Linked DNA regions of Homo sapiens. Changing the gene in region 2 together with the main gene of any one other region gives a genetic interaction. Each region holds a gene or a part of one and is shown on either strand. Other genes may lie near its edges.

Region 1 (3,652 bases), on a different chromosome or scaffold from region 2:
GGTTTTTTTTTTTTTTTTTTGGCATAACACCTTGTTTTACTTCCGAGTTAACCTTGTTAATCTTGCTGCCTTATCTGATCTAAATCTGTTATCTTGAGGGCAGAAATTCCATTATACCTTGCACAATGGCTTGTACCCTGGGCAGGCCGTAAATCTATCTCGGATTTAGTTAAGGAAGAGACCTGGCTGGACATGGTGACTCACTCCTGTAATCCCAGCACTTTGGGTAGGATCTTTGAGACCCGTCTGGGCAATGAAATCCATAGTCTACAAAAAGTAATTTAAAAAAATTATCTGGGTGGCATGTGCCTGTAGTCCCAGCTACCCGGGAGGCAGAGGTGGGAGGATCCCTTAAATCCAGGAGTTTGAGGTTACAGTGAACTATTATCATGCTACTGCACTCTAGCCTGGGTGACAGAGCAAGACTCTTATCTCTTAAAAAACAAAAAACCAAATCAAGAAGCTAAGTCATTTCGGTCTGCAAAGGACCAAGGTGCTTATTTTTTTATTGAAAGAGCCAAATGTAAGTCTGTTTTGTGAGAGTTGGCATTGCATTGCAGCACAGGGGCCTGAGCATACTTGGGGAGCTCACCATTTAAGGTACCTGGGTCGTTAGGCTCTACTCCAGACCTGCTGAGTCAGAATCCCTGGGGGAGAGGCCTAGACAAGTGAACTTTGAAAAAGTTCCTCCCCAAGTGACACTGATGGACACCCCTGGTCAAGAGTCACTGTTTAAGGGGAAGGTGACCCATGGGGCCTTAACTAGACTAAAATGTGAGTGGTTCGCCTGTTAAAAGGAGTTAACGTGTGTTTCTTTTGTAGCATTAACAACAGTGTCTTCAGTGTTCGCTTTTTCAGAACTACAGCTGTATGCAGTAAGTACCTGCTTTCTTGGGAATGGAATTTTATGGGAAGAGCAACAATTGATTGAGTTTAATTAAAGAAAAATATTAAAAAGGAAAAATGAACTACTTATGATTTTCTTTTTTGCATTTTTCCTAGAGGATGACTTGGTTACAGTCAAAACCCCAGCGTTTGCAGAATCTGTCACAGAGGGAGATGTCAGGTGGGAGAAAGGTAAGATTTAGTTTCCTATTTTTTTTTTTTTTTTTTTTGAGACAGAGTCTTGCTCTGTTCCCAGCCTGGAGTGCAGTGGTATGATCTCGGCTCACTGCAGCCTCTGCCTCCCAGGTTCAAGTGATTCTCCTGCCTCAGCCTCCCGAATAGCTGGGATTACAGGTGCCCACCACCATGCCTGGCTAAGTTTTTTGTATTTTTAGTAGAGACAGGGTTTCACCATGTTGGTCAGGCTGGTCTCAAACTCCTGACCTCAGGTGATCTGCCCACCTCAGCCTGCCACAAAGTGTTGGGATTACAGGCCTGAGCCACTGCGTGAGCCACTGCGCCTGGCTCCTCTCACTTCTTAAGTTTAAGTGCTATCTAAAATTCTCCCCTCCCCTCAGGATAGTTGTAGAATTTATAGCTCTGCCGTTTTCTTTACATATGTACTTTCTGCTGGCCCTGTAGGAAAGGGTTCTTATAACATACCTGCCAAAATGGGTTTTGTGGCTACTGGAGGCTCCCCGCTAACAGGTAGCCTTGTAGCCTTTGATTGTCTTTTCAGCTGTTGGAGACACAGTTGCAGAAGATGAAGTGGTTTGTGAGATTGAAACTGACAAGGTAGGCTTATCTTATATTCGTACCAGCTTTTCATGGGCTTCCCTTAGTTAACCTAATGAAAGAAACAGGGACTTAACCATTGTTTAGAGATAATTTTTAACTAGCTCTAACTTCAGTTGTAAAATTATTGGATTTGTTCAATTTAAAAAAAAAACAACTTTTTACATTTAACTTTTTTTTTTTTTTTTTTTTTTTGAGACAGACTTGCTCTGTTGCCCAGGCTGGAGTGCAATGGCCTGATCTCAGCTCACTGCAACCTCCACCTCCTGGGTTCAAGCGATTCTCCTGCCTCAGCCTCCCTAGTATCTGGGCTTACAGGCGCATGCCACAACGCCGGGCTAATTTTTGTATTTTTTGTAGAGACAGGTGTTGCCAGGCTGGTCTCAAACTCTTGACCTCAGGTGATCTGCCCGCCTTGGCCTCCCAAAGTGTTGGGATTAGAGGCATGAGCCACCGCACCTGACCTGCATTTAACTTTAAATTGTTTGCTGTGTGTGTACTATGTACTTCATTTAGTAGCTTTAGTCTTGTAGTGTGTGGTGAGGGGGTGGGGAGGGTAAATAAGCTGTTTCCACTTTTTCCTGTATCACTTGGAAACATATTAACTGAATATTGCCTGAATGTTTCTGAGAAAGGACAGAAAGTGAATCTTCACAGTAGCGATGACTTGTTATCACCCTTGCTCTGAAATTATGGCCTTAGATGTTTGTGTGCAAGGCCTTATATATTGTGTTGCAACTCTTGTTACTCACTGGAGATACGCTGTTGTTGTTGTTGTTTTGAGACGTTTCGCTCTATCACCCAGGCTGGAGTGCAGTGGCACGATATCGGCTCCACCTGCCAGGTTCAAGCGATTCTCGTGCCTCAGCCTCCCAAGTAGCTGGGATTACATTTTTGTAGTTTTTAGTAGAGATGGGGTTTCACCATGTTGGCCAGGCTGGTCTTGAACTCCTGACCTCAAGTGATCCGCCTGCCTTGGCATCCCAATATGCTGGGACTACAGGCATGAGCCACTGTGCCTGGCTTCATTGGAGATTCTATACAGCTAATTTTCTAATGCTGGATAAACATTTGGACTTCCTCCATCTGTCTTCCTCTTCCAGACATCTGTGCAGGTTCCATCACCAGCAAATGGCGTGATTGAAGCTCTTTTGGTACCTGATGGGGGAAAAGTCGAAGGAGGCACTCCACTTTTCACACTCAGGAAAACTGGTGGTAAAGAAGTTCTCCTGGTGGTCAAGGTCTCCAGTGTTCCCTCTTGGGATTGGGACTGAGCATAATGTGCTAATTCCCCGATATGTCAAAGACTCTTGTCATTCCAGCTGCCCTTAGTTGAGGGAATAAGGGGTAAATTTATATATAGTGTGAACTTCAAATGTCAAATTCTAAAAGAAAAGTGTATTTTTTAAAAAATAAACCTTATACTCTGTTCTTTCCATGGGTGTTTCTTAGCAGGAGCTGAGAAACTGGACCTTTTCTTATAGATATACAGATTGAGCATACCTAATCTGAAAATTCAAAATCTGAAATGCTCCAAAACTGAAAATCCAAAATCTGAAATGCTTCAAAACTTTTTGAGCACTGACAGAATGCTCAAAGGAAATGCTCATTGTCTTTTATGGGGAATTCAGTGTTGTTTCTTTTCACATCTGTTCTCTCATATCTCTAGGAAGGGTTGGTATTTCTTTTGGGAAGAAATGAGAAACGAATTTGTACTGGACCTGATAGGATTAGAGATTAATAACTTTATCTGACTCTTAGTTAAATTTTATAACCACTAAAAAGTCTATTTCTTTTTCCTAAGCGAGAATCGTACCCGTAGACCAACGAGTCACAGAAGTCTATTTCTTTTTCACTGTTACACTAATAAGGCAGATAGACCGCATGATTGAGGTTAGTCAGGCAAGACCAGAAGCTCAGAGTAGAAAACATGTATGGTAGAAGGCTGGGAAATAAGGTAGTCCTCCTGTTG
Region 2 (2,626 bases):
GCCGAGGTGGGCGGATCACAAGGTCAGGAGATCAAGACCATCCTGACCAACATGGTGAAACCCCGTCTCTACTAAAAATACAAAAAAATAAGCCAGGAGTGGTGGCGGGCACCTGTAGTCCCAGCTACTCTGGAGGCTGAGGTGGGAGAATGGTGTGAACCCGGGAGGTGGAGCTTGCAATGAGCCAAGACCACGCCACTGCACTCCAGCCTGGGTGACAGAGCGAGACTCTGTCTCAAAAAAAAGAAAAATAAATTAAAAGTTGGTGATTTAATGAAAATTGTCTCCTTCACTGACATTAGCCGAGAGGTCAGAGGTCACACTGTAGACACCAGCTGTCGAGGCACAGGCGCTGCTCGCTCCTCTTAGGCAACTCTTAGGACTTTAACACTCCAGGGAAATCATCATGAAGTCAAACCGCTGCAGGGAACAGTCACACTGGCCCCAGGCCACACAACAATATCACTGGCAGGTTTTATCTTCTCTGAGTAAGTAAGATAAAGTGAAAAGCCTAGTTTAAGGAGCCGGCTTAGCTTGTTCAAAATCCCTGGGCCTGGCTTAGAGCAAGTAGAGACAGGTGTGGGAAAGGAAATAAATCAGACCAAGCTGAGCCCATCATTAAAGTTTAATTCTCTAGAAAGTTTAGTATGAAGTATTTGACATACAAAAAGCCATAAAGAATGTCACGCACAGCTTGCCAGGAGCAAAAAAAAAAAAAAAAAAAAAAAAGACGAAAGAAAAAGCACGTTACAGTGAACGTCCATGTACCCATTGCCCAATTGGAGAAAGAAAACATGCCCAGTGTATTAAAGCCCCTGGTGTGTCCTCCCTGCCTGCCTCCTCTGAGTGAAGCATAATCCTAAATGTGGTTTCTTGTGTTATTCTAGTCTTTTTTTTTAAAGAAAAATCTTTCTGCCAATGGGGATAATGGCTCCATGTGGCCGAGGTGAGACTAAGAATCTGGAGAAAGAGCATCAGTCTGATGTAGCTTTTATTGAGTAAAGGAAAAAGGGAATTCAGCCGCATGATACAGAGGTTCCAGTTGATCAGAGTGCGCAAACACCCTTCCTGTCTGCGTGATGGGAACCGCACCAGCACACGGGGCACGCGGAAGCCACTGCCGCAAGGAGATGGTTCCCACTCTCACGCACATGAGCAGCTCCTGGTCAGTCCCAAGAGGCAAGGGCAGAGGGCATGGTGGCTCTCACAGAGCTACTTTACAAATAAACTGTGTGTCTTCCTCAGGAGTCTCTTACAACACTTTTAAAAAACTGAACAGAAAATAGGGCAAAGGGCCAGGTGGCAGTGCCATGAGGCACATGGAATGTCCTGGTCTGTGGAATCGTGGAGGGTGACAGGAGCAGCATGATCAGGCATTGTATGACGAGGATGACACGGTGCCACCATGGCCTGTCCAGTTGGTGTGGATAAACTGCCCTGGTTTGGCCAAGAGTTCATAGGTGTGAGCCCCGAAGTAATCCCGCTGAGCCTAGGAAACGAGAGAGTAGGTTGGTCAGGACAGTCCATGGCGCACGCCCCCGAGGGGCCAGCCAGGTTAATCCCTGCTCCACAGGCTTACCTGGATGAGGCTGGCTGGAAGCATCTCATGTCTGTACCCGTCATAGAAGGAGAGGGCAGTGGTAAAACAGGGCATGGGAATGCCAGCCTGGACCCCAGTGCTGACTGCCCGCCGCCAGGAGTCCTGAGCACAAAACGCACGGCCAGAGATTAGTGATCTGCCCCTGGTGACGCGGATAGATTTTCATTCATATCAATGTGGGTAAATGAAAAACTGATGGTTAGGCCAGGCGCGGTGGCTCACGCCTGTCATCCCAGCACTTTGGAAGGCTGAGGTGGGCGGATCACGAGGTCAGGAGTTCAAGACCAGTCTAGCCAACATGGTGAAACCCCATCTCTACTAAAAATACAAAAAAAAAAAAAAAATTAGCCAGGTATGTTGGCACACCTGTAGTCCCAGCTACTTAGGAAGGCTGGGGCAGGAGAATCGCTTGAACCCAGGAGGCGGAGGTTGCAGTGAGCCAAGATCATGCCACTGTACTCCAGCCTGGGTGACAGAGCGAGACTCTGTCTCAAAAAAACAAAAAACCAAAAAAAAAAAACAAAAAACCAAACATCACAACTGATGGCCCCAGGGAGGTAGAGTAACCATGGCACCAGCCCTAGGCTACATACCTGGCAGTTTTCAACAGCTGACTTAAAGAAGTCGTCCAGTAGGAGGTTCTGAAGTTCCGGGTTTCGATCAAATGCATCCTTTATCTTTCCTAGGAATACACTGAAATAATCAAGGGGGGAAAAAAGCAATGAGTCTTTTTTTTTTTTTTTTTGAGACGGAGTCCCGCTTTGTCACCAGGCTGGAGTGGAGTGGCACGATCTCAGCTCACAGCAACCTCCACCTCCCAGGTTCAAGCGATTCTCCTGCCTCAGCCTCGCCAGTAGCTGGGATTACAGGCACGCACCACTACAACCGGCTAATTTTTGTATTTTTAGTAGAGACAGGGTTTCACCGTGTTAGCCAGGATGGTCTGGATCTCCTGACCTCGTGATCCGCCTGCCTCGGCCTCCCAAAACGCTGGGATTACAGGTGTGAGCCACCGCGCCCGGCCAA

What was found. Genes that interact genetically often act in the same process or in processes that back each other up.
Region 1: changes in PGD (region 2) and DLST together harm fitness more than expected from each alone (negative genetic interaction), as found in Homo sapiens cells (one large-scale study listed by BioGRID).

The regions. Positions count from the first base shown.
Region 1 is NC_000014.9:74,888,273-74,891,924, forward strand, and holds part of DLST (dihydrolipoyllysine-residue succinyltransferase component of 2-oxoglutarate dehydrogenase complex, mitochondrial isoform 1 precursor), read left to right. Parts: intron 1-822; coding exon 823-875; intron 876-1,002; coding exon 1,003-1,077; intron 1,078-1,624; coding exon 1,625-1,680; intron 1,681-2,783; coding exon 2,784-2,895; coding exon of another isoform or gene 2,896-2,954; exon of another isoform or gene 2,955-3,652. UniProt on the Homo sapiens protein: Dihydrolipoamide succinyltransferase (E2) component of the 2-oxoglutarate dehydrogenase complex. The 2-oxoglutarate dehydrogenase complex catalyzes the overall conversion of 2-oxoglutarate to succinyl-CoA and CO(2).
Region 2 is NC_000001.11:10,418,493-10,421,118, reverse strand, and holds the end of PGD (6-phosphogluconate dehydrogenase, decarboxylating), read right to left. Parts: intron 2,294-2,626; coding exon 2,194-2,293; intron 1,703-2,193; coding exon 1,580-1,702; intron 1,490-1,579; coding exon 1,370-1,489; 3' UTR 608-1,369; downstream 1-607. UniProt on the Homo sapiens protein: Catalyzes the oxidative decarboxylation of 6-phosphogluconate to ribulose 5-phosphate and CO(2), with concomitant reduction of NADP to NADPH.